Homo sapiens: one gene and its partners. The protein of the gene in region 7 interacts with the protein of the main gene of each other region in a pairwise test. Each region holds a gene or a part of one and is shown on either strand. Other genes may lie near its edges.

Region 1 (3,500 bases), on a different chromosome or scaffold from region 7:
TTCTAAATTTTGGCTCCCTTTTCAGGGTTGGACATCACTATTAATTCAATGGCCTGGGCAAATGATGACAAGCCAAATCAGGCAGATTTTTCAGGGGCAGAATATTAGTTCTCACCATCTAAACTGAAAATGCTTATTTTACTAGACAGGTTATACTGGTTTGACTGTCTCTGAAGCATTCGGAGCTCACTTCTCCTCTCTCTGGGTTATAACATCTCTTTCCTGATTACAGGTTCCTTAAGAATTGACTGGAAATCAAGTTAGGTTTATATATGAAACCTCATCCTGGTTTTCTCACAAGATACTGGGTGCTACTGGGAGCTCAGTTTTGAACAGTTGGAAGCCATTTTGAATATTACCTCTGTCAGGGAGTAAATATGTGGAAGAACACTGCTGAGGAAATAATTGCCTTAATTTTTTGTTTTTATTTTGTCTTTTTTACTTCCCTCTTTTCAATCACCACGCTTTTCTTTCAAACTGACCTATCTAAAGTCCCTCTTATGAATGTAAAGTACAAATCCATGATATTTTTTATGCACAGTTGTCTTAGAAGATATATTTTAAATACTACATTAAAGATACCTTTCAATTTTTATCTACTTATGGCTAAATGAATAAGAAAACCCATTGGTTTTAATGTAGTAAAATACAATTATAAATCAGTGAAATACAGGACTTGATTATGCTCCTAGATACTGCCTGGACTGTAAGGATGCTTATGATTGGGGTATTAGGCTCATTCCTAGCAGTATGCTGAGTATCTACATGTTTACTTCAGCGACTTGAAATTTTAAGATTTTCCCTCCACAATATGATAGGTGAGAACCATGTCCCATTTTAGTGTGCAGATCCAAAGGAAAAGAGGAAGAGACCGGGCGTGGTGGCTCACACCTATAATCCTAGCACTTTGGGAGGCTGAAGCGGGCAGATCACCTGAGGTCGGGAGTTCAAGACCAGCCTGACCAACATGGAGAAACCCTGTCTCTACTAAAAATACAAAATTAGCCAGGCGTGGTGGAGCATGCCTGTAATCCCAGCTACTCAGGAGGCTGAGACAGGAGAATCGCTTGAACCCAGGAGGCGGCGGTTGCAGTGAGCCGAGATCACACCACTGCACTCCAGCCTGGGCAACAAGAGTGAAGCTCCATCTCAAAAAAAAAAAAAAAGAAAAGAAAAGAGGAAGAAACCCTTCTAATAAAAAGTCATTTAGACATAAATCATGAGAGTTCAGGGTACTTACTTGTCATCTGTCTTTCCTCCTAGACAATATATCATCCCTTTATGTGAAATCACATTATGGCCATAGACTTTGATAGGGAGTTTTTTTACTTCGTTCCATTTTGCAGCCCTAAAATTAAACGAGACAGAATTTATATACCTTCAGTAAATTCCAGGTTCTGAAAATATGAATATGTTGTAGGCACGCATATACTTGAATGCTTAGGGAACAGGAATATCATGCCAACTTACACAGGATCATAGCATAATACTGAATCCAGCGAAGCCTCTGTTTGAAGGTCTTTGCCTGCAACTACATAGATTTTATCATCCACCTCTCCCAGACCGAAGAGACACCTGGCTGAAGGCAGAGGTGGAAGTCCAACCCATTCAGATGCTATGCTATCGAGCTGAAAAAAACATATATGAGAGATTGTGGAGCCTGTTAGAAAAAAATTAGAAGTACACCAAAAAAAGTTATACTTTATATGTTGTTTAGAAGTCATCGAGATAGTCAAATATCTCACAAGTAAATAAAACTACAACCCCAAAGTATCACATTGTAGCTCATAATTACCAAGAAGAATGAGTAAATCTACTTGGCCTACCAGATAAAGATATCAAAATCTTCAAGGCTTCAAGAAAAGAAAAAATAAAATAGAATCACCAGAGGTTAATTACAACTGTGAGGTTTCTTGTCAAATTTTCTCCCATATTGCCTTGTTCAGCTTTGAAACAGGAGATCCTCATACTTTTAGGACACTGGGGAAAGAAAGGTTGTCATAACAAGGAGGGTCACAGAATGTGAATGACCCCTGCGTGCTATATTTAACATGCTCCCCATGCCGGCAGCTGGGACAGCTGGACCTGTCACTCAGTCCACAAACAACTGGGATGTTGGGCAATATCTTTTTTTCTTTCTTTAAAAACATTTTAGGTTCTCTGTGTTTTGCTTTATTATTCCTGATACAGGCAGGCGTTAAAGTGAATTTCCTAGTGTGTTGTTGGGAGTCCCTTGAAATACTCTTCTCTTTTTTAAAAAATTTATATTAATAAGTAACTGCTCATTTTTGGTCACCACCACTTCTGCAAGCTTAAGATTTTCCCAAGGAGGAAAATCTCCTTGTGCCCATGCCCTGGGGTAGATGATGGTGGCATCTGTTTCATCACTTACTTTTGGTAATTTAAATATTTTACACTTTTCATTTTAGCACACTAAGGCACAAGAAAACTGTTTTCTGCAAGAGTACAGTTGCAGATTTGTTGTTCTCTCTGGTACCACTTCTAGATTGCAAAAATAAAATGAATAAAACCCAGTTTCACTGGATACTAAGAATAGATGTGCATACAAATGGCTGTGGTATAGACAGGGGTGTCTGTGGAAGCCTATCTATATGTGGTCTAGTAACCTCAGTTAAACAAAGCGCTAATTAAGACTAGATGACATGAGAAGTTTAATCTCCACATGTGCATTCTTAGCTTTGCATTCACTAATTTCAACAGCTAGATTTTGATCCCTTATGTTTTCACTTTTGAAAGAAATTCTTTGATCATGAAGGTGGTATGTAATATAGTAGAAATAATAATGAACATTTATGGGGTTTTGACTGTTGTCATAGTCTTTGAACTAAATGCTTTACACAGGTAACCTCATTTAGTTCTCCAGGATAGGCATTTCTATCATCCCCATTTTACAGATGAGGAAACCGAGGCACAGGAAGATTAAATAATTTTCCCAAATACACAGAACTTTTAGGTGATATTCAAATCCAAGCCATGTACATTCACAGTTGGTTTTAAAAAATGGAAACAGCAGCCATCATAATCCCATACCTGTGGGCTTAACTCTCATACTGTACAGTACTGCCTACCTTCCCATATTACCTGTTAGAGGGCACTTTCTCTAGCAGATGGAACAGTAGACTACCTACCAGTCTCTTTTATAGAGGAACTATCAAGCTATTTAACTTCTCTGAGTTCAACTTTCCTCATTGTTAAAATTAGGGTTTGGACCTAGATTACTTTAAGACCTGTTCAAAGATTTGATGAATCTATTAATTCAAATTAATGAGTGGGGGAAAAAATCCTCCCTTACCAAGGTAAAAAATTCTCATAATCTATTTACAGCATACAATCAAAGGTCAAATTACTCCTAAATTAATGCATTTTAAATAGATGTGACCAAGCAGAAAAATATAAAACCTGAAATTCTCATGTAAATATTGTCTGATGAGTCACAACCCTCTTTTATGGTGAAGTGTTTTTATCCTGGCATACCGTTC
Region 2 (3,500 bases), on a different chromosome or scaffold from region 7:
CAAGTCTAGAAGATTCTCAATACTAGTACTTTCTTGATCTTATCAGAGGGTGTCCATGGAAGGTCATGACCATCACCCAGCTGAGTGCAGTAGAAGGAAGCTTTCTAATGTAAGTTGCATCACAGTTTCAGAGATGTGAGAGAAATTCAGAAATGTGAGGGAAATTGTGAAATGTAAAACGTGAGGGAGAAAAGCATTCAGAATGGAAAAATAAGACAAAGAGTCCCTTCCCATCTAACTCACAACCCTGCCATCCCCAACCTATTCCTTTTCCCAGGCTCTTTCTTTCTTCCGTGCTGTCTATCGACATGGACCCAGCCACACCGGCTGGTTTTTGCTGCTTTCTGTATGACCTGGTCTCTTGCCCCTTCCCAAGGTCCTCATCATCCAGGCAGAACCAACTTCTTCCTTGTGCCAGGGCTGTTACACCAGGAGAAAAAAAAGTATGACATTCTTCAGGGTAGATCTTCTTACTACTGTGGAATTATTGTCAAGTCTTTAAATTTATTTCGCCAAATGTGCTCACTTTCTGAACCCTTAACATGGCAGAAACATCTTCTCTCTTCTCGAGGAAAACCTGTAAGAAAAAATCAGAAAGATTATTATAATTACAGAATTACAATAATCTCTGGGGTGGGGGAAGGAGAATTAAGTATGATTGTTTTCGAGGAAGAAAAGAAAGAAAAACACCTGCCCGTTTACTTACAAGAGGGAGGAGAGCTAGAACTGAAAGGAAAATGGAGTGGAGGAAGCAACAGGGCTTGTGACGACCCCTAACCTGGTGTTCTTCCTCTCCACGACCCGACCCTCACAGAATTCTTTTTTTTCTTTTTTTTTTTCTTTTTTTTTTTGAGACAGGGTCTCGCTCTGTTGCCCAGGCTGGAGTGCAGTGTCTCCAGCTCAGCTCACTGCAACCTCCACCTCCCAGGTTCAACCAATCCTCCCACCTTGGCCTCTCTAGTTGCTGGGACTACAGGCATGCGCCACCATGCCTGGCTAATTTTTGTATTTTTAGTAGAGATGGGGTTTCACCATATTGACTAGGCTGGTCTCAAACTCCTGACCCCAGTGATCCACCGCCTCAGCCTCCCAAAGTGCTGGGATTATAGGCATGAGGCTCTGCACCCGGCCTCCCTCACAGAATTCTTTCCGAGTGCTTGTGAAACTTCTGAGGCAAGTGACTTGGTAGAGGGTGGAGGTTCCTATTTTGGTTTACACAAGCAGGGGTGAGCCAACACTCAGAGTGTGGAAAGCACAGGAGTGTGGGGAGAGAGAAGCACACAGAAAGGAGCTGCTAGGAACCGGCTGAACTGTGGTGGGAGTGAGGAGGCTCTGCCCTCTCAGAGGCTATGGAGTGGTGTTCAAGACAATTCACAAGGAAGCCTGGTGCCTCAGCTAACACTGGGTGGCATTCTGCTGAAGAGGAGCTGACACGTACTTTTCCATTTTCATTCAATCTTCAAGTTTAAACAATCACCATCAGAACTTTCAGAAGTGTATTATATACTCCAGAACACCAGAAATATAGTATAAAAGCTGCTATTTTTAAAATACCCCAGAGATATAGGACCAAAAATGGGAACTACTTTCAGCCTTTCCAGATGGATGGCTTTCTTTCCTGATATAAAGGTTTTAAAGAGAAAAGGATGGCTCCATCTCCTTGAGTAACCTACAGCTTGTAACTTTCACAGTCTGAACACTCATCCTTATTTCTAACTAGAATGTTTCCAGGTGCAAATGTAATATATTTTCTCTGGCTGTGACCCAAAAGACAGTGAAATAGAGTCAGCTGATTTTCCCTGTATGGTAACCCTCCCTATTTTTTTCTCTCTTTTTTTTAAACAGAGATAGGAGTCTCACTATGTTGTCCACACTGGACTTGAACTCCTGGGTTTAAGTGATCCTCCTGCCTCAGACTCTGAGTAGCTGGGACTACAGGCATATCCTGTTTTTGAATCATGTCATCCCTCTTTTAGTTAATTCAGATCAGTCACAAAAGTGTTCCAACTTTATGCCATAGGCATGGCTTTTCCAACATGGAGGACGTCAGTGCTATAAACCTTACACAGCCAATCCTTGTTATTTGCAGATGCCATATTTGCAAATTCACCTACTCGCTAAGGTTTGTCTCCTCAAAATTAGTACTTGAGGTGTTTTTGCAGTCATTTGTGGGCATACACAGAGCTGTGAAAAATCTGAGTCACCCCACATGCCTGTTCCCAGCTCAGGTCAAACAAGGCAACACTCAGCCTTCTTGTTTCAGCTTTGATACTGTAAAGAATGTCCTTTTCATGACGTCTTTAGTGCCATGTTTTTCTCATTTCTGTGCTTTTTATTGGTGACCTCCAAGCATAGTGCTGAAATGCTGTCTAGCATTCTAGGAGGCTGTGGTGTGCCTCATGGAGGAAATACGTGTGTCAGATAAGCTTTGTTCACACACAAGTTATAGTCAGTTGGCTGTGAGTTCAATGTTATTGAATCATCAATCAATAAACAATAATTTAATGAATCAATATTAAATAAGGTGTCTTTAAGCAGAAACATCATAAAATAAGGCTCTGTATTGATTGGTTGATGAAAATGTGACCAGAGACTCATAGGACTCTAACTCTGTAGTTCCCCTAGGAGCAATGGTTCAGTATTTACTAATACAGTGTTCTCAGCGTTATTATAAAACATAACTACCAAGAATAATGAGTATTGACTATACTTCATTTTCTCTGTATTCTTAAATATTACAGCTTGAAACAATGCTCTATTAAGAATGTGGGCTGGGCGTGGTGGCTCACACCTGCAGTCCCAGCATTTTGGGAGGCCAAGGCGGGTGGATCACTTGAGCCCAGGAGTTCAAGACCAGCTTGGGCACCATGGTGAAACCCTATCTCTACCAAAAATACAAAGATTAGCCAGGTATGGTGGTTTGTGCCTATAGTCCTAGCTGTAAGAGTTAAAAAGAAAGAGGAAAGAAACATGAAAAATGGCTCAATAAAGACAGGTTTATTTTGGAGAATAAACCTGAGAGGGGCTTCTGGCTGATTTCTGTCAGGAGTACTCTCTCTTACAGACTAAGTGTATTTAAGGGTTCAGGGTGAGAGAGCCTATCACAGGCTTGGAATGTTTCTGTGTGGAGGAGAAGTTCATTGTGGGTTTGGAATGTCTCTGGTTGGAGGGGAGGTTATCTTGGGGCTGGCTTGTCTCTGGTCAGGGAGAGAGTTTATCTTACGGTTGGAATGTTTCTGGTTGGAGATGTCATTTGTGGTTTATGGTCATACTGACATTAGCCATTAGGCTGATGCCCTTTGGGTTGGATTTAGGCAGTTTTTGATCAAGGGGCACTTTAAAATGGTGGTGCTTGTCCAAGATGGTGATGCTCCTGCTCTGTCACTAGCTACTTGGGAGGCTGAGGTGGGAGGATCACTTGAGCTACGGAGGTTGGGGCTGCAGTGAGCCAAAATTGCGCCACTGCATTCCAGCCTGAGTGACACAGTAAGACCATCTCA
Region 3 (3,500 bases), on a different chromosome or scaffold from region 7:
GGTTCAAGTGATTCTCCTGCCTCAGCCTCCCGAGTAGCTGGGACTATAGGCATGCACCACCATGCTCAGCTAATTTTTGTATTTTTAGTAGAGAGGGGATTTCACTGTGTTGGCCAGGCTGATACGGAACTCCTGACCTCGTGATCTGCCGGCCTCTGCCTCCCAAAGTGCTAGGATTACAGGTGTGAGCCACTGCACCCGGCCTCATCAGCTCTTTAGTGAGTGCCTTCTGTGTAAAGGCACTATAGCAGGCAGCACAGATAGAAGTGAATATCAGGGTCTTTGTCCTCAGATACTCAGTCTAATGGGGGAGACAGATGTACCTACTGACGAGGGCAGGAGGGGACCCAAGGGAGAAAAGGTCACTTCCAAGCTGGGATAATTCAGGAAGAACTTCACTTGAGCCGAGTCTTAGAAGGAGGATTGGATCTCTTCATTCATTTGTCTGATGTGTATTAAGCATCACTAGTGCGGAGCACTTTGCTAGGAGCTGGGAAGATTAGTGGTTAACACAGCGTCTGCCTCAGAGCCTATAGTCTTGTGAGGGAGACAGGTATTAGACAGGTAAATTCACATGAACCTAGAAGAATGCATTGTGATAAGTGCCCCAGAGGAAAAGAACAGTCATTAGAGAGGATAATAGGAAGGAGTGTGTGGCTGGTGGGTGTTTGTGTAGTCCTTTCTGAGCAAGTGACATTCAAGCATTTTCTACTGAACATAATTTATGAACATGACAGAACATTCAAGTGGGACAAAGAACTATAAGAAAAGTCTCCTTCACATCCCTCCAGAGTAACCACTGTTAAGAATTGTTTGTATTTTTTTCCAGAAAATGTGTTATGATAAACTTTCACGTATCTCCTTCTCTGTCATCTAGTTACCCCTTTAAAAAAAACACACAAATGAGCTCATGCTATACATAATATTCTTCCCTTACTATTAACTCGTTTTGAAGAAGTGTTTATATCAGCTTACGTGGGCCTATAGAATTTCTGTAATAATAGCAAGCTGTACAGAATTGTATTATGTGGCTACACCATGCTTGCTGACCCATTCTTCTTCTGATGAACATCTTGTTTTTCATATTTTGGTAACAAATGTGTCTTGGTCTACTTGTATAAATACGTACTTCATTTAGATAAATTCTTAGCAGTGGAATTTCTGGATTAAGGTGTACACGTTTCGGCCAGAATTCTCTGTTGCAAGCAGTTGAGTCACTGGATGATTTAAGGAAGAGAGGGATTTTTGAGAAAAGTATAGCAGGTGGCTCACAATGTAGTTGGGAGGGCAAGAACTGGGTTTGGGGCCAAGAACAGTGTCTCAGTCTATGCTGCGGGCACAGCTGGTGCCGGACCCTGGCTGCCACAGAACTGAGCCTTCCTGCCATCCCTTCCACCACCAGAGAGTTCCTCATGGGGAAGGTGGGTGCTTCTGATTGGTGAAGCTCAGCCTCAGCTCAGATGGCAGTGGAATTCTCCGGACAGAGGCAGGAAATACAGCTGCTGGGCAGCCCAGAAAAGGGACAGTGCATTTTACCTTTTGAGAGCTATTGCCAAATTGCTGTCCAAAAAGCTGGCACGAGTTTATACTCCCACTAGAGAATACAAGGACGCTTGTCTCCCACCACCTCACGGATGCTGAGTATTTTTGCCAGTCTGATGGGTGAAAGTGGGAAGAAAGAACACTTAAACGCCTGAGGGATGAGTAGGAATTTGCAATGCACCCCTTACCCCCGAGGGATAGACCTCAGGCCTGTGGTGCACAAGGGCTCCGTGTGGTTAAGCACTGAAAGGCCAGAGTTTGCTGCATGGGTGCGGCAGGAGCAGTGAGTGGGGGTGGGGCAAGGGACCCATGCAGGGGGTGCAGCAGAAGCAAAGATGGGGAGGGTGGAAGAGGGATGGATGTTGGGAGTTTGGAGCAGAGGCAAGGCTGGAAAGCAGGCCTCGGGGGTCCAGACGCTGCAGGCAGAGCTGTTTTGATTTTGTCCTGGAGGTCTCCTGCTCTTTCAAGCCAGGGAATGAGAGGATTAGGTTCGCTTGTTAGAAGGAGCAGCTGACAGCTGTGGGGAGCAGTGGCGTGAGAGGCCTGGGGCAGGGAGGGAGCTTGCATCCTGGCCAGAAATGTTGAGGGTGAGGACGAATCCAGTGGTGGTGGCGGTAGGGATGGCCACTGTCATTACAGAGACCTCTCAGACAGCAGCTAACCCCTGGGCCACATCCTGGGTTTCTGTCGTCATTCTCTCCTGGCGTTCCTCAGCGCCAGCTCCTTGCGGCTCTTGGCTGCAGTGTTGCAGTCACGCCTTCATTTGGGGCCATCTCCCTTTTCAGTTGGGCTCTAGGCCCTTTTTCTCATCTCATTTCCTGTTCTTCCTTCCCTTGTGCCCTGGGCTTCAGTGGCAGCAGCCCCCTCGCCCTCCTCTGAAGAGAGCCTAACAGCTGTTGCTGCCTCCTTTCAGAAACACATTTTCTGCCTGGAGTGTTCCTCCTCCTCATCCTGAGTGTGGCCCAGAAGCCATTCCCTCCTGGCTGCCCCTGGCGGAGTTAGCAAGTCCCTGCCAGGAGTGAAGCAGGATCCCAGGACTCCCGCCTTGGCCCCACTTTGCTTCCCCTAGGCATTGTCCCTCCTGCCCCTGCACAATTCTAGACCTCTGAGAGCAGCTTCTGTGCCTCACTCTCAGGGTCTCACGGAGCCCTGTGCAACTCAGTGAATATTTGATGGTGAATTAATTTTCTGATTCTCCAACTTGTTTGTGCTAAAGAATGTCTGAAACTTAGTGTTAGAAACCTTAGCCGCTGTTCATTGTTTGTGAACTAGCAGTTTGCAGCACCCCTGGAATGCAGTTGGTTTAGATTGTGTTCCATTTGTGTGGTCCCAGTTTAGCTGTAAAGTGTTGTAAATGTGACAGGTCCTTTTACTTTTTTTTTTTTTTTTTTGGTTAAAGCTTAGTATTATTTTGAATTTAAAGCATATTTATGGGAATGTCTCTGTGCCAGAGTCTGCTGGGTGCTGGCACATTATTTTCAGTTAAAATTCAGTGTAAGGGATGCTATTATTGCTATTTTACTGACGAGAAACCTGAAAGTTAGAGAGATTTAGCAACTTACCTAGTGTCACTCAGCCCCATAAGTGACAAAGCTGGGATTTGAACCCTTGTCTTCCATCTCTGGCAAGCCCCAGTACAACACAGCTGCTGTGATTTTATCATCCTACAGATGTGATTTCACTTAGCTATTAAGCCTTGCTTCTGAATACTAAAAATATTTATACAGATTCCCGAAGGGCACTTACTGGATTTTGTATTTTTGACTGTTCTCTGCATAGGTTCTCTGTCCTGCATGTTGAAAACAGTATTTACTGAAACAGCCTTATTGCAGCAAAGGAAATTAAACTATATATATGCATATATATCTCCACAATTTTACTACCCAAAAACAACGTGATTTTTACTTTTTGTTTCTTTCCAATCCAAGTCCATTGTGAAGAGGAGCTCTTTACAGAGA
Region 4 (4,283 bases), on a different chromosome or scaffold from region 7:
GGGCATGGTGGTGGGTGCCTGTAATCCCAGCTACTCAGGAGGCTGAGGCAGAATTGCTTGAGCCCAGGAGGCGGAGGTTGCAGTGAGCTGAGATCATGCCATTGCACTCTAGCCTGGGCGACAAGAATGAAACTCTACCTCAAAAAAAAAAAAAAAAAAGTTCTCAGAAACAGCTTGGCTTTCTCCGAACCAGGCTCTCAATAGTATCCTGCAGCTGTCCAGGCTTTTGACCTGCTTCCTTGGCCTTCAGAACAGAACACCCAGCTCTTCCCCTCCACCGGCCCACCACCCGGGAGGCCCAAACAGCCTTTGAACTAGCACAAGGTCCTGGTTCCTTTCTCTTAAAGAACAGCAGGATCCGAAGCCTGCCCTCACAAGATGAGGAGGCAGCAGCTGAGAGGCAGGGATTTTTTTTTTTCTCATTGGAGAGTCTAAATTTGGTGAAGGAATCCAAAGCTCAGAAAGGTAAAGCAACCAGCTTGAGGTCACACAGCAAGTCAGTGCTGGGGCCAGAACACAGCAGTGAATGGGAGGATAGCCAAAGCCTCCAGGGAAGGGCTCAAAGCTGTGGGGCTATGCACACAAATGGGGTGAGGTCCTCGAGGTACAGATTAGGCACCCATTTTATAGGCCAGGTCACAGAGCTGGTTTACAAAATCCTGCTCAGAGTGTGGCCCCAGGTGGCAGGAAGAAGTGAAAGAAGGCCTCTAATCACTTCCTAAGCAGTGGAATCACAGGGAGAACTTACTGTCATTAAACCAGTATGATGATGGAGTGGGGAATGCCTCAGTTTCTCCCACCGCCGAGGGCCTATAGGACTACAGTTCCCAGGGCCCCGTGCTGCAGGCTAGCGGCCTCCCGCCAATGCTGGCCAGTAACCTGAGCATCCCTCTCCAAAAGGTCACTTCAGGGCTCCTTGAGGGACAGCAACAGGGGGAGCCTAGAGCTGCTCAGCTTCGGTGGGGGTGGAGTGAGGGCTGTGGCCCTGCCTCACACAACCTCCCTCACACCACCCCTGCAATGCAGGGTCGTGGGCCCCTTTCTCAAAGACATCCAGTGGCCTCTGCTAGTTGCACCTCTTCCGTCAGGGGACACTGACTTGGCTCCTGCACCACAGCCTGCAGGGGGTCCTGGTTCCTTTTGCCACAACACATGGCCTCCCATCCTGGTTCAGCCACTGACAGACAGCTCCCCAATCCAGCACTCTGCCTGCTCCTTCTTGTATCCAACCCTCCAAAAGGCAGGGACAAGGGACAGAAGACCATGTGCAAGGCCTGGAGGAAGTGGGTCAGCACAGGCCTGTGAACAAGCCAGGCCAGTCTTGGCGGCCCAAGTGGAGCTCACCTCTCCCTCCCCTCTCCTCTCCTCCCCTTGCCCTCAAAATAGCTCCCTGAGCTGCCAGGCCAAGACCCTCCCATTGCAGGGGAGGCGGGGCGTGCTGCCCAGAGCCAGGCTTTAAATCCCCTTGAGGCTGGGGAGCTCCACTCCTTGGCTGGAGGCAGTGCTGAGGCCGCCGTCCCCTCTACCATCAGTCCAGTCCGGCCCGCCCTCCTGCAGCCATGTCCCGGCCCCTGTCAGACCAAGAGAAAAGAAAGCAAATCAGTGTGCGTGGCCTGGCCGGCGTGGAGAACGTGACTGAGCTGAAAAAGAACTTCAACCGGCACCTGCATTTCACACTCGTAAAGGACCGCAATGTGGCCACCCCACGAGACTACTACTTTGCTCTGGCCCATACCGTGCGCGACCACCTCGTGGGGCGCTGGATCCGCACGCAGCAGCACTACTATGAGAAGGACCCCAAGGTGCTGCTGGGGAGCCTGGGGTGGGGGTATGGGCTGAAGGCGCTGCCAGGGAGCTGGCGATCTTGACTTAAGTGGCTGCCCCTCGTCACTCTAGGTTCTTGGGGGTGGAGAATCCAGGGGTGCCAGGCACAAGGGGTGCTGGGACAATCTGAGGGAGAAACCTGGGGCAGGAGTGGGGGTCAGGGAGCTCAGAGCAGGTGGGCTGGCTGCAAAGGGTCAGTGCCCACTCGGAGAAGGTTGGAGTGGGTGCTGGTGGGCAGGACGGCGCCTGTGGCCTGGCTGGGCCCAGGTGGAAGGACACATCAGTTGCTGCATGTATGCGCGGTGTGCCTGTGCAGCAGGCGGGGCTGGGGCAGCTGGGGCGGCAGAGATCAAGTGTCCGGTGGGGTCACTGGTAAATGTCAGCAACCTGACACGCCTCGGTGGGGAGTGGGGGAGGGGCGGGCAGACGGCCCAGGAGGGGACCCAGGAAACTGGGAGACCAGGCACTGGCAGCATCCTAGTTTCTGGTGCCTCTGGGTCTCCTTGGGATTGAGGCTTGAGGGCCAAGGGGAACTGGACAGTGCAAGGATGGGAGGTGACAGTCTCTAGCCCAGTCTCTAGCCACTGTGTGACCTTGAGCAAATGACTTTTTTCTCTGGGGGTGTGTGCAGGGGGAAGGGGTGCCCATTCTCCCGAGTACCTCAGTCCCTGAAGTGGGTATGGCCAGCGCTATTTCCCAGATGAGGAGACTGAGGCCAAAGAGAGTGATTTGTCCAAAGTCAGAGGAATGCTGGGACCAGAACCTTAACCGCTGGGCCCCAAAGCCTGAGACAGGGAGAAACAAATTGGGGACAGGGATGGGACTGCTGAGCAGGGCAGGCGGGCCAGAGGTCCAGGCGTGGCTGGGCCTGGCTGAGTGTTGGTGTGTGGCCCTGACCCCATTCCCTGCCCATCCGTCTCTCTGGGCAGAGGATCTACTACCTGTCTTTAGAGTTCTATATGGGACGGACGCTACAGAACACCATGGTGAACCTGGCCTTAGAGAATGCCTGTGACGAGGCCACCTACCAGGTGTGTGTGGGGTGGGGCAAGCCGTGGGGACTGGGGGATTCCACTGCTGACACTTGACCCTGACCACTGTCACCCTCACTCCTCCAGCTGGGCCTGGACATGGAGGAGCTGGAGGAAATTGAGGAGGATGCGGGGCTGGGCAACGGGGGCCTGGGCCGGCTGGCAGGTAAGAAGACAGGGCCGTGAGGGTGGAGTGGGCCGATGGGGTCCTCCTTGCTGGGTCCCTGACAGCCACCTCCCTGCACACCCCCAGCCTGCTTTCTTGACTCCATGGCAACACTGGGCCTGGCCGCCTATGGCTACGGGATTCGCTATGAGTTTGGGATTTTTAACCAGAAGATCTCCGGGGGCTGGCAGGTGAGCAGCCTTGGCTCTAACTTGTGGGGTCTAGTCAGGATGGGGAAGACCCCCACTTGTTTATCATCTCTGGCAAGGTCCGAAACAGCCCCGCAAGCTCTGTGGAAAGCATCCTTGCTGCTCCCCACCCCCCGACCCAAAGCCAGCTGGTGCCCCTGAAACAGGTGGTCCGTGTCCCACTCGATAGCCCAGCAGACCAGGGGCCCACCTCAGAGCTCCTGACTTATACTTGGTGTAGGGTACACCGGCCCACGGCCCCCACCCTGCCCCACCGTGCACTGTGAGTGCCTGTACTGATACTGCTGGCCTTTCTCCCTGACCTGCCTTGGGTGCAGATGGAGGAGGCCGATGACTGGCTTCGCTACGGCAACCCCTGGGAGAAGGCCCGGCCCGAGTTCACGCTACCTGTGCACTTCTACGGCCATGTGGAGCACACCAGCCAGGGTGCCAAGTGGGTGGACACACAGGTGAGGATGAAGCTGGGGGTCAGGGGAGCCCAGAGAAGGGGAGGGAAGAGAAGGAAGCCCAGAGAGGAAGCAGGACCCAGTGTATTTTACACCTGAGGATGCTGAGGCTCAGAGAGGTTAAGTGACTTACTCAAAGTCACACAGCTGAAGCCAGGAGAGACTGGAGACAGGGACACAGGGGAGCCAGCCTAAGTGCAGAGTCTGGAAGGGGAGAGAGGCTGCCCTGCTCCCCCAGTGTCTCCCCATGACCTGGCTCCACTCCACACCATGAGATTTATCAAAGGACCATCTTGGCGACTTGAGTCTGCCCTGAACATCTCGACAGCAGCAGCCCAGAAAGGGGGACAGGAGAAAACTGGAGCCTTCCGAAAGGAATTCACTCATCACACAGCAAGTTAGAGGGATCCTAAAACCAAACCAAATCTAGACACAGTGGCTCATGCCCGTAATCCCAGCACTTTAGAAGGCCGAGGTGACAGTATGGCTTGAGTTCAGGATTTCAAGACCAGCCTGGGCAACATAGAGAGACCCTGTCTCTACAAAAAATAAAAAAAATAGACTGGGGCAGTGGGTCATACCTGTAATCCCAGCACTTTGGGAGGCC
Region 5 (4,269 bases), on a different chromosome or scaffold from region 7:
AGCGATTCTCCTACCTCAGCCTCCCAAGTAGCTGGGATTATAGGTGTGCGCCACCACACCCAGCTAATTTTTGTATTTTTAGTAGAGACGGGGTTTAGCCATGTTGGCCAGGCTGGTCTCGAACTCCTGAGCTCAGCTGATCCACCTGCCTCGGCCTCCCACAGTGCTTGGATTACAGGCATGAGCCATCATGCCTGGCCCCTCCTTTTTATTTATTTATTTATTATTATTATTATTATTATTATTATTATTATTATTATTATTATTTTGAGACTGAGTCTTGCTCTGTCACCCAGGCTGGAGTGCAGTGGCACGATCTCAGCTCACTGCAACCTCTGCCTCCCTGGTTCAAGTGATTCTCCTGCCTCAGCCTCCCTAGTAGCTGGAACTACAGGTGCATGCCACCATGCCCGGCTAATTTTTGTATTTTTAGTAGAGACGCGGTTTCACCATATTGGTCAGGCTGGTCTTGAGCTCCTGACCTCGTGATCCACTTGCCTCGGCCTCCCAAAGTGCTGGGATTACAGGCGTGAGCCACTGCGTCCAGCCTTTTTTTTTTTTTTTTTTGAAACAGAGTCTCACTCTGTTGCCCAGGCTGGAGTGCAGTGGCGCAATCTCGGCTCACTGCAAGCTCCGCCTCCCGGGTTCACACCATTCTCCTGCCTCAGCCGCCCAAGTAGCTGGGACTACAGGCGCCCGCCACCATGCCCAGCTAATTTTTTTGTATTTTTAGTAGAGACGGGATTTCACCGTGTTAGCCAGGATGGTCTCGATCTCCTGACCTTGTGATCCGCCCGCCTTGGCCTCCCAAAGTGCTGGGATTACAGGAGTGAGCCACCGCGCCCAGCACCGGCCTCCTTTTTATTTTTTAGCGACAGTTTCTCGCATTGTCCCCAGGCTGGAGTGCTGTGACGAGATCACAGCTCACTGCAGCCTCGACCTCTTGGGCCCAAGCGAACCTCTCACCTCAGCTCCTGAGTAGCTGGGACAAGAGGTGCACGCCACCATGCTCAGTTAATTTTATTTTTTGTAGAGATAGGATCTCACTGTGTTTCCCAGGCTGGTCTCGAACTCCTGGCCTCAAGCGATCCTCCTGCCTCGGCCTCCCAAAATGCTGGCTTGTGAGTGAGCCACCACTTCACGCACGGTCTCCTTTTGAAGTAGAATTAGACAATGTTTTACACCGTGCCAGTGAAAGCAAACTGTACTCTCTACGGCGCTAGTAGCAAAAGCAAAGAATTATTAACATGCCTAATAGGAGCCCTAAAAACTAATCCAGGTCTGCAAAAGCCGATCGACAACTCTGTAGTGATTTAGAAGAGAATTGCAAGACATTAACACAGAGCGTCCTAAGTGACAGGATGGTCTGGCGACCACATTTCCCGGCAGCCCTCGCACAGCCAGGCCGCTTCGAGGATTGGACTTCTCCGCAGGAGGCGGGTGACAGGGGGAGGGGATAAGCGTGAGGTACTGTGGGTAGGAGACGGCCGTCGGCGGAGGCGCCATTTTGTGTAGCCGCCGAACCTTGTTGGAGGTTCTGGGGCGCAGAACCGCTACTGCTGCTTCGGTCTCTCCTTGGGGTAAGTGCGGCGGCTGTCTGTAACGACGGTAGGTTCTTGCCATTTGGGCTGGCCCCCAAGCCTCCCTTGTCAGCTGCCGGAGGCGACTGATCAGCTCCAGCCGGTTCTGTAGAGGGGCTAAATTACCCCAGGCGTTGGAGGGCCGCGCCCTTCCTTGTTGCCAGCTCTGTCAGTTTCCAGAGGGTGTCCAGCCAGCTCAGCCTTGGGCCTGCTTCTTTCTGGCTGTGACTTTGCCCCTTGTGGATACACGTCCCCTAATCTTCAGCCCAACGGAGCAGTGGAGCCGTCGCCTGTCCCTCGGGCACTCCTTGGGAGCTCCCTGGCAGTCTCTGGCCGCCATCCCCCGCTCAACTGCAACTGAATCGCCCTCTCCGAAAAGCTGTTCGGTGATCGCCCATCTGCGGGTTTGGAACCTCTTGGGAGGCGGGAGGGGCATGTGCGGGGAGGGCAGGCCGGACGCTGGAGTCGGTCGAGCAGGCCGTGACGCCGCCATCTCGGCCGCGAGACCCCACGGAGGTGGGTGCCGGCACCGCCCGGGAGACAAGGGGCGGCACCAGTGAATATGCCCCGGGACTTGTTTCCCCCCAGTGGTTCTTTTTCATTTATTAATTTCAACAAATCGTTGAGCATTCGCTCTAGACTAGGCTTCCAGAGACTACTGGAACTGATTTTTCGGACCTCGCGCTCATCGAACGCGGTCCAGCAGTGTGATGTCTTATTACCAACGGGGGGCGGGGGGCCGGGCTGTTCACTACTCAGTGGTTTGTAGTCATAAGAACTGGCTCAAGACGTGGTGGTTATTGTTACCTAGGAATTAGGTCGTTTCTAGCTTTGCTCTTGTCTTATGCGATACGTTATTAATGTAGTAGATTTCAGTCAGCTCAGTATCCCAGCTTCTACGAGGTTTTACATTTTTCATCAGAAGTGTTTGAATTTCATGTTGCTCCTTGTATTAATGAAGACACTTGGATTAATGTTTTAACGGTCAACTATCCCACGGAGTTGCTTTGATACAAAACCAAGGAGCTGATTGTAGCTCTGCCCTTTTTGCTTTGTAATTCTAAGGTAGGAGCAGGGAAGGAGTCTTCTGCTTGCTCCGTATTATGATTCTGTTAAATCTGGAATCTAATATTTTAAAATATGCTTAATCTTCCGGTTTTGCTCATTGTTAACAAAATGTTAGCACGATTTTAACGTTGACAGTTTGTCCCCACCACTTCCCCACCTTAGATAATCACTGTCAATGATTTGAAGGTTTGATGAAATCCCAGCCTCAGTAGTATCCAAGCTATGGAGCTGCTGACTTAAGTGATCTCTGAGATTTATAGCAATTAATCTCTCTTGTCTCCTAGAAAAAATAAAATTTGAACCTTTTGGAGCTGTGTGCTAAATCTTCAGTGGGACAATGGGTTCAGACAAAAGGTAAGTTACTACAGTACGTGGCTTTGATCTCAACATTTCAGTGGGGACTGAACTCCTTGTTTAAAATAGTTTATCAAACTAATATATGAGTGTTTTGCGCCAGGCATTGCTAACGAACACCTTTATGATCCTGTTGTCACAAACTACAGTCTAGTGAGAGAATTAAAGTACTGTGTGAACATGCTGTGATAAAGTGTAGGGTGCTCTTAGAACACATAGGAAGTATGTCTTTTTCTTGTTCACAGCCAGGAAAGCTTCCTGGAGAAAATATTCTCTGGAAGGAAGCTGAAGGATAAGAAAGAATTTTAGGCAAAGAAGGGCAGGGTAGAGTGGGTCACTGAAGGTTCCCTGTGTGGACAGCAACCTTTGCAGAATCCAGGAGATCATACAGTCTGGCACTTAGCACAGTTCCTGGCTGTGGTAAGCAATCAATGAATGCCATTTCTTGTTATTGTTCCCTGAATAGCAAGATGATCCAGACTTAGAGAGCTGAGAAGCTTGGGACTGTGTGTTACATGAAGAAAGAAAGAGCCAAAGAATTAGTGGAAAATTAAGATGAGAGCATTTGGCTATTGTGTCACCTATGGGTACATGCTCTCAGACCATTTGATTTAAACACACACCCTTATTCAGCCATCTGCCTTTTTAGTATTGAGGTCAGTCCCTGTGGTAGATCACATTGACAGGCTGAGGGACCTTAGGAGATGTTCATGTCACATGGTATTTTAATGCTGTGTCAGCAGTCTGTGGTTCTAAATAGCTTACTAAATTAACATTTACCCCTTTGGGGTGTCTCAGTCCCATATTTCCTTTGATTCTTTTTATTAAATTTGTATATTCTAAATGAAGCCCTTATAAACCTTTCCTTTGCCTTATGATTGCACAGCAGTTTTATGAATCTGGTAAACAGTTTACAAAAGGTGTATTTTATCTGTGGTCAAATAGGTTTAAGCCTCTTGTTATTAGGTTTTCCCATGAAGCCCAGTGCTGCCCTTTAGCCAAAAATAAACCAGATGTTATAAGAAGAGTGTTCTCTTAAGGGGTGCTAGTTTTGGGTAACTATCCAGTTGTATCTGACAGACAACTAAGTTGCCTGATGGGGAAAAAAAAGACTAACTTAGTTCATCCAGGTTTTTGGTCCATTTTCCAGTAGGCATGATACCCTTGAGAGTAGATGAGCCAGGGATGTACTTAATTTCACCCTTTAAAATTGGGTGAAATTCGAGTAACTGCTTTCTTCCTGTTTTTGGTCACTAAGATCTGAATC
Region 6 (3,500 bases), on a different chromosome or scaffold from region 7:
TGAGTGAAAGAAGCCAGACACAAAACTATACACTGTATCATTTCATTTCAGTAAAGTTAAAAAACAGGCAAAACTAACACAGGTCAGAACAATGGTTATCCTTGAGGAGTAATGAAGGCAGTGACTGGAAAGGGACTCAAAGTGGACTTTTGGGGTCTGTAAGGTTCCGTCTCTTGATCTGGGCACTGGGTACACAAGTATGTTCTTGAACACATAAGACATGCACATTTTTCTATATGTATATTACACTTTATTAAAAAGTTTTTCTAAAAATCTAATATTTTCTCTGTACTTTCATCTTTCAATATCTGAAGTGTATTTACCTAATATGTTTAAATTTCACATATGGCTAAAACTTTGAATCTTAATTTAGACTGGCAGACTATTGCATGTTTCAGTGTAAAATGGTAAATCAATATAAACATGTCTTTTATAAAAGCTGGTCAGTCTGGAGTTGCCATTGACCTAGGATAGGGATCCCCCATAGAAGAACCTAAAAATTAGACATTTAAGAATTACTTCAGTGCTGGCTCCATTGTAAGATGGCTCTTTATCTGCCACAGAAACCGCTTTGGGAAGAGTTCTACATCCGTGATTGTGCAACATTCTAGTTTCTTGAACTTAAAGATGCATGTTCCCTCTATCCCATTTAACAATCTGTTCGCTGAACCAGTGGATATCATCACTCCCTGAGCTTCCGAAAGAAAAACTGATACCCAGGCCCCACCCCAGATAAATTAAGCAATTTGTATTTATTCCAACACAATAATCTAAAACTATGTGGTGTTTTTTTTGAGACGGAGTTTCGCTCTTGTCGCCCAGGCTGGAGTACAACGGCACAATCTCGGCTCACTGCAACCTCCACCTCCTGGGTTCAAGTGATTCTCCTGCCTCAGCCTCCTGAGTAGCTGGGATTACAGGTGCCCATTACCATGCCTGACTAATTTTTGTATTTTTAGTAGAGACAGGGTTTCACCATGTTGGCCAGGCTGATCTCACACTCCTGACCTCGGGAGATCCACCTGCCTCAGGCTCCCAAAGTGCTGAGATCACAGGCGTAAGCCACTGTGCCTGGCCTAAAAATACGCATTTTTGAAGCCACCTTCCTTTTCCCCAACTGGGTCATAAATGTGCAGCCAGGTTTGTGAAAATCTGCTCTAGGTATTTTTAGTCTCTGAACCTGATCAACCTCTAAAATCAAACTCAGAAACAGCATTCCTCTTGCCTTAAACACACAAACTCCACCAACCCCACTCAAGATGCCACCCAGTCTTTCAACACTTTGGCAGCTTTGGCTCCTACCACAGATATTTTCCAAAATTAGGAAACCATCACCCCGAATTTCAGACTACTCTCAGTCCTTGACAGGCATCTAAATCTACTATTTGGGAAGAATGGCTGAATAAGGACACTAATCTGATTCACACAGACCAGGCTCAAATCCTGGTTCCACCACCTACTAGCCATGTCACCTTGGGCATGTTAGAAATCTCTCTGAGCCCAATCACCTAAACTGTTAAAATGGAAACCATAACAACGCCTACATTTCACTGGGTTGCACAGTCACTAGAACATTGCTAGTTACTGACAGCTCCTTACATCTTCTGCTGTTCTGCTGGGGTGCCTTCTCCATGCCAAGCAGTGCACCGGAGTTTTTTTTGTTGTTTTTTTGTTTTTTTTTTGAGACAGAGTCTTGCTCTTTCACCCAGGCTGGAGTGCAGTGGTGTGATTTCGGCTCACTGCAACCTCCGCCTCCTGGGTTCAAGTGATTCTCCTGCCTCAGCCTCCTGAGTAGCTGGGACTACAGGTGCGCACCACCGCGCCCAGCTAATTTTTGTATTTTTAGTAGAGACGGGGTTTCAGCATGTTGGCCAGGATGGTCTCGACCTCTTGACCTTTTGATCTGCCTGCCTCGGCCTCCCAAAGTGCTGGGATTACAGGTGTGAGCCACCGCACCCGGCCTGCACCAGAGTTTTAATAGTGTATTTTGCTTTTAGATCAGAAGTTCTAAAACCTACCTATCAGAAAAAACAACAAATTGTGATATGAAAAAAAAATATATAGGCTGGGCGTGGTGGCTCATGCCTGTAATCCCAGCACTTTGGGAGGACGAGGAGGGCAGATCACCTGAGGTCAGGAGTTCGAGGTCAGGAGTTCAAGGCCAGCCTGGCCAACATAACGAAACCCCATCTCTACAAAAAATACAAAAACAAAAAAAGTTAGCCAGGCATGGTGGGAGGTGCCTGTAATCCCAGCTACTCGGGAGGCTGAGGCAAGAGAACTGCTTGAACCCGGAAGGCAGAGGTTGTAGTAAGCCAAGATCGCGCCACTGTACTCCAGCCTGGGCGACAGAGCGAGACTCCATCTTAAACAAACAAACAACAACAAGAACAACAACAACAACAAAATATATACGTGTGTGTGTAAGATTAAGACAAAAAAGCTAATGAACAGATTTTAAAGTTCCATATGTTTCCCAAAATAATTTTATTTTACAATTAGTGCTGACTTGATAGGTCACTTTAAATTGTCCTATGCTATGTTTAGGAACAGATACCAAAGGATTCCTCTTAACAAACCTGTATTTTTGGAACCTGTGCTTATTAAGGATAATCCAATCATCCCCATTAACTTTTCTTTGGCACTATAAATAACAGTTTTTTGTTTTTTGGTTTTTTTAAACAGTCTCGCTCTGTCGCCCAGGCTGGAGTGCGGTGGTGTAATCTTGGCTACTGGAACCTCCGCCTCCCAGGTTCAAGTGATTCTCATGCCTCAGCCTCCGGGGTAGCTGGGACAACAGGCATGTGCCACCACACCTGGGTAATTATATATTTTTTGTAGAGACGGGGTTTCGCCACGCTCACCAGGCTGGTCTCAAATTCCTGACCTCGAGTGATCCACCTGCCTTAGCCTCCCAAAGTGTTGGGATTCCAGGCATGAGCCACCACGCCTGGTCTAAAAACTAGTTCTCTATCAGATGTTTTCCTAGGAAAAATTAAATAATATAAACAAGCCTAGAAAAAGTTACTTTGAAACATGTGTACTTTTAAAATCTTTTTCTAAACTAGCCTTTTTAAAAAAAGATGAAAGATTAAGACTATAATACAATAGTATGATTCACTGTTCTCATGACTCCTTAAACCAAGTAAGTTGTAACGTTTATTATCTATTTCAATAAACAAAACATATGCTTACTTTGTCCCATCCTTATTTATATAAATGTAACTATTTCAAATTTACATTTTTTACTCAATAAGCAAAACTTCTTTTATTCTAGAAGTCTTTGTTGGAATCTTTAATTAATTCACGCTTTATTTATCTATTTTATTGAGACAGAGTTTCACTCCGGTGCTCAGGCTGCAGTGCAGTGGTGCAATTTTGGCACACTGCAACCTCTGCCTCCCAGGTTCAAGCAATTCCCATTCCTCAGCCTCCCAGGTACCTGGGATTACAGGCCCGTGCCACCATGCCTCGCTAATTTTTTTATTTTTAGTAGAGAC
Region 7 (3,500 bases):
GTAACATTGATCCCTGAAACTGTTTCTTAAGTGGACTATTGAGTGAGCTGTGAGCATTTAATAGGGTAAGCAGTGATCATCAGCATCTGAATGAACTCAGCAAATTAATTTTAGTTCACTCTTTTACTCAGTTGCCAAATGGGTCAGTCAAGGGATCAAATTATCTGACAAGGGATAAGATTGAGGATTACATGGTGGATTATTAACCGAGTGAAAGTAGTGTAGGGTAAAGTATATGAGGTTGGTAACTGTACCCAGAGAACGGTGATTAGGGAATAGTCAATTTGGAGGGAATATTTTGATAGGGCTTTTTGGCCTCTGTCTACATCTTAGGTAGTCAGGTGGACACATAGGAAGGATAAGTATTTTTCAAGGACTTGTGGGCAACCAAAGAAAGAATGTATATTAGGTTTTTGGAAAAAAGGTTGAGAAGGATAGTTCATTCTGTTGAATAATTGAACTATATCATGGTGATAAAATAGACCAAAGTCTAGACCAAAATTTAAGGAAAACATTTATAGAGGTGAGTGTGAAGTTCTGCGTTTGGATTCAAAAAATGAATTCTACACCTTTGGGCAGGGTAAAGTGACTTGCTCTGTAAAACTTGACTATTTTAATTGACTGTATACTCACTATAAGCCAGCAGATTACGTTAGTTACTAAAAAGAAAGGTTAATGCAGTCTTGGGCTTTGTTAATAAGATGGGGCTCAAATCAAGGGAGATTATATTATTTTCCTGTGTATTAGTCTGGCTATTAGATTTGGAATATTGGTTTAGTTCTAAGCAATACATATTAAGAGAAACTGACAAATCTGAGTGAGACTAGGTGGAACTGTGAAGAATCTAAAAACTTCAGAGATCTTTTTGAGACTTACATACATCTACTGCATCTCTTCTTCTTTAATCATTTAGCCAGCTAATGGCAGTCTCACTCTTTATGTGACTCTTACTGTCTATTATAAATCCTTCAGCATGGATTGTGTAGTTGAACTATGTGGGCACCCCACTTTGCTAAGTAAACTTGGGGCATATTGCTTAATTTTCTTTAAGCCTTAGTCTTCTCATCTGGAGTTAGTAATAGCCCATCCTTGGCATATTGCTGGCCTCTAGTAGCTCTGCATGATTGGGAGCTTCAGTGGTGATAGTGATGGAAGATGGCCATCATCATTTGTACCAGTGGTTCTCAACTAGGGGAGGATCATCCTCCTGCCCCCTACAAGGGAACAGTTGGCAAAGTCTGAGGACATTTTAGGTTGTCACAAGTGGTGCGGTGGGGGATGGGGGGATGTAATATTGGCATCTATGGGGTAGAGGCCAGGGATGCTGCCAAACATCCTACAGTACACAGGACAGCCTGCCACAGTGAAGAATTATCTGGCCCAAGAAATCAGTAGTGCGGAGGGTTGAGATACATACATAATGTCTTCCAAACTGGATTATAATCTCCAAGGTAGGCTGTTCAGTTTTGTTGTGTGTTGCCACAGAGCCTAATTTTGCACACGGTTGCTAACTTACATGTTGATTGATAATTACAGTATTAATATCACATTACAAGATGGCTGTATTCATCAAAATTTACATAAATTGAGTTATTATACATAAAATTACATTTACTGCTGGGTGTGGTGGGGTGTGCCTGTAGTCCCAGCGGCGTGGGAGGCTGAGGCGGGGGATTGCTTGAGCCTGGTAATTCGAGGCTGTAGTGCTCTATAATCGTGCCTGTGAATAGCCACTGCACTCCAGCCACATAGCAAGACCCGTCTCTTAGAATAAAATTGTATTATCATGAGGATAAGCCAATATTTAAAGCAAACCCTTCACTTAGAACTTCAGATCATATACCCATAATAAAATACTGCAGGTTTTCCCTAAGGACCATCTGTCAAAATTTGCTGTGTAAAGCTAAAGTAATTAAAAAGCATTTGGTTAGTCACCTTACTTTCAAACTTCATAGTCATATCCCAAGTAGGTGCTAATCTCTCAATAGATTTTTGTTCAAAATGACCTTTTTGATTACTATTAGAAGACAATGTTATCAAGAGAGTAGCGTGTAATAAAAAATGACAAGAAATGACTTTACCTCATTATAATCACCTTAGCTCAGACAAATCTTTGTAACAGTCTGTTTGCATATTACATTCACTATCCTTAGGAGCCATTTTTGGAAACTGTTTTAGAATCCATGAGTCAAGTCGATTCATTTTGCCTGAAATACATTAAGTTATGGCCAAAGTTCCCTAAATGTAATATCAGTACTTAGTGAAAGTATGATCCAGGAAAAATTGCTGATTAGTACCCAATACAAATTGAATAAACTTTTGAGAGATGTTTGTTTTTCCCCTGAGGCAAGTACCAAAAATAAGTGGAGTTTAAACATAGTTTAATTAACAGGATGATTTAGTGGTCAGATTATTTCTTTTGCTGAATCCTTTTAAATATATGCCTTCATACTTAGAAATTAACTATTTTTGTCAGTGGATGTGACATTTTCTGGATCTCAAATTACACCTTTGCTAGTTTTGCAGTACTTTTAATCAAAAGCGCTAAAATATGATTGTCTTGTAAATCTACTTTTGAATAGGAGACACATTCCTTTACTTTTATAAATTTGGAATTTTGGTAGTAATTTTACTCTGGTAAAAGTACACCTGCATGCTAAATGAAATATAGACATATGTGGTCTAAAATTTGTCAGAAAAAATTAGTAAAAATACTTAGTTTTTATTACAGGTATGGATATTAAAATTCTTCATCTAACTATTGTGTTATATATATGCCACTGCTAACTGTTTTGAAAGCAGAGTATTGAGTGTAATGTTTAAAATTACATTGTCTTTTGTAGTTCCAGCTCAACCAAGATAAAATGAATTTTTCCACACTGAGAAACATTCAGGGTCTATTTGCTCCGCTAAAATTACAGATGGAATTCAAGGCAGTGCAGCAGGTGAGTTGATGGATCTCTGTTGCATATGTGTCGATATCATTCATGAGGAATCTTCTGTTTTCATAACAGCTATTTATACCTTATCTACCTTACAACCTATTCTACTTCCCTCCCCCTTTTTAGGGTATGACCTTGATTTCTACTTCATAGAGGGAAAAAAGAAGTCATTAAATGGAAAACTTCAAATTACAGGCTCAGTGTCTGAAAACTTACCTGCATCTGCTTTCATGTTTTTCTGGGTTTTTTTTTTATGTATTACATTGAATTTGAGATCCCTCTAAGAATATCCAAGTGGAGGTGTCAAGTATACAATTTGTATATAGTTGAATATACCTGTTTCTAAGGAATAAGTACTTGGAAAATGTCCTTCCAATTATGTAAGAACCACCCTCCTACCTGTGCTTTGGATTCTATCCTGTTACATTACTTCAGGAAAATCCCTTTATCAATGATGCCTTCTCAAGCTGATATCTTTAACCCCTCTCTGCTTGCTCTGTCTCAGCAGTAGCATTTGAACCGCTGTTGTCTTTTAAAACAAAAAAAAATTGTATCAAT

Evidence for each region.
Region 1: the proteins of POMP (region 7) and KLHL41 interact in a two-hybrid assay, tested with the Homo sapiens proteins (one large-scale study listed by BioGRID and IntAct).
Region 2: the proteins of POMP (region 7) and CAPN3 interact in a two-hybrid assay, tested with the Homo sapiens proteins (one large-scale study listed by BioGRID and IntAct).
Region 3: the proteins of POMP (region 7) and PSMB7 interact in binary tests that used the Homo sapiens proteins (3 or more experiments, as listed by UniProt).
Region 4: the proteins of POMP (region 7) and PYGM interact in a two-hybrid assay, tested with the Homo sapiens proteins (one large-scale study listed by BioGRID and IntAct).
Region 5: the proteins of POMP (region 7) and RBM5 interact in a two-hybrid assay, tested with the Homo sapiens proteins (one large-scale study listed by BioGRID and IntAct).
Region 6: the proteins of POMP (region 7) and DCPH1 interact in a two-hybrid assay, tested with the Homo sapiens proteins (one large-scale study listed by BioGRID and IntAct).

What each region holds. Positions count from the first base shown.
Region 1 is NC_000002.12:169,512,702-169,516,201, reverse strand, and holds part of KLHL41 (kelch-like protein 41), read right to left. Parts: intron 1,629-3,500; coding exon 1,471-1,628; intron 1,349-1,470; coding exon 1,241-1,348; intron 1-1,240. UniProt on the Homo sapiens protein: Involved in skeletal muscle development and differentiation. Regulates proliferation and differentiation of myoblasts and plays a role in myofibril assembly by promoting lateral fusion of adjacent thin fibrils into mature, wide myofibrils.
Region 2 is NC_000015.10:42,366,001-42,369,500, forward strand, and holds part of CAPN3 (calpain-3), read left to right. Parts: intron 1-3,500. UniProt on the Homo sapiens protein: Calcium-regulated non-lysosomal thiol-protease. Proteolytically cleaves CTBP1 at 'His-409'. Mediates, with UTP25, the proteasome-independent degradation of p53/TP53.
Region 3 is NC_000009.12:124,398,443-124,401,942, reverse strand, and holds part of PSMB7 (proteasome subunit beta type-7 precursor), read left to right. Parts: intron 1-3,500. UniProt on the Homo sapiens protein: Component of the 20S core proteasome complex involved in the proteolytic degradation of most intracellular proteins. This complex plays numerous essential roles within the cell by associating with different regulatory particles.
Region 4 is NC_000011.10:64,757,175-64,761,457, reverse strand, and holds the start of PYGM (glycogen phosphorylase, muscle form), read left to right. Parts: upstream 1-1,483; 5' UTR 1,484-1,559; coding exon 1,560-1,802; intron 1,803-2,753; coding exon 2,754-2,855; intron 2,856-2,942; coding exon 2,943-3,021; intron 3,022-3,108; coding exon 3,109-3,212; intron 3,213-3,547; coding exon 3,548-3,679; intron 3,680-4,283. UniProt on the Homo sapiens protein: Allosteric enzyme that catalyzes the rate-limiting step in glycogen catabolism, the phosphorolytic cleavage of glycogen to produce glucose-1-phosphate, and plays a central role in maintaining cellular and organismal glucose homeostasis.
Region 5 is NC_000003.12:50,087,450-50,091,718, forward strand, and holds the start of RBM5 (RNA-binding protein 5), read left to right. Parts: upstream 1-1,469; 5' UTR 1,470-1,580; intron 1,581-2,932; 5' UTR 2,933-2,985; coding exon 2,986-3,002; intron 3,003-4,269. UniProt on the Homo sapiens protein: Component of the spliceosome A complex. Binds to ssRNA containing the consensus sequence 5'-AGGUAA-3'. Regulates alternative splicing of a number of mRNAs.
Region 6 is NC_000006.12:151,458,966-151,462,465, reverse strand, and holds part of DCPH1 (damage-control phosphatase ARMT1), read right to left. Parts: intron 1-3,500. UniProt on the Homo sapiens protein: Metal-dependent phosphatase that shows phosphatase activity against several substrates, including fructose-1-phosphate and fructose-6-phosphate.
Region 7 is NC_000013.11:28,665,630-28,669,129, forward strand, and holds part of POMP (proteasome maturation protein), read left to right. Parts: intron 1-2,843; coding exon 2,844-2,945; intron 2,946-3,500. UniProt on the Homo sapiens protein: Molecular chaperone essential for the assembly of standard proteasomes and immunoproteasomes. Degraded after completion of proteasome maturation. Mediates the association of 20S preproteasome with the endoplasmic reticulum.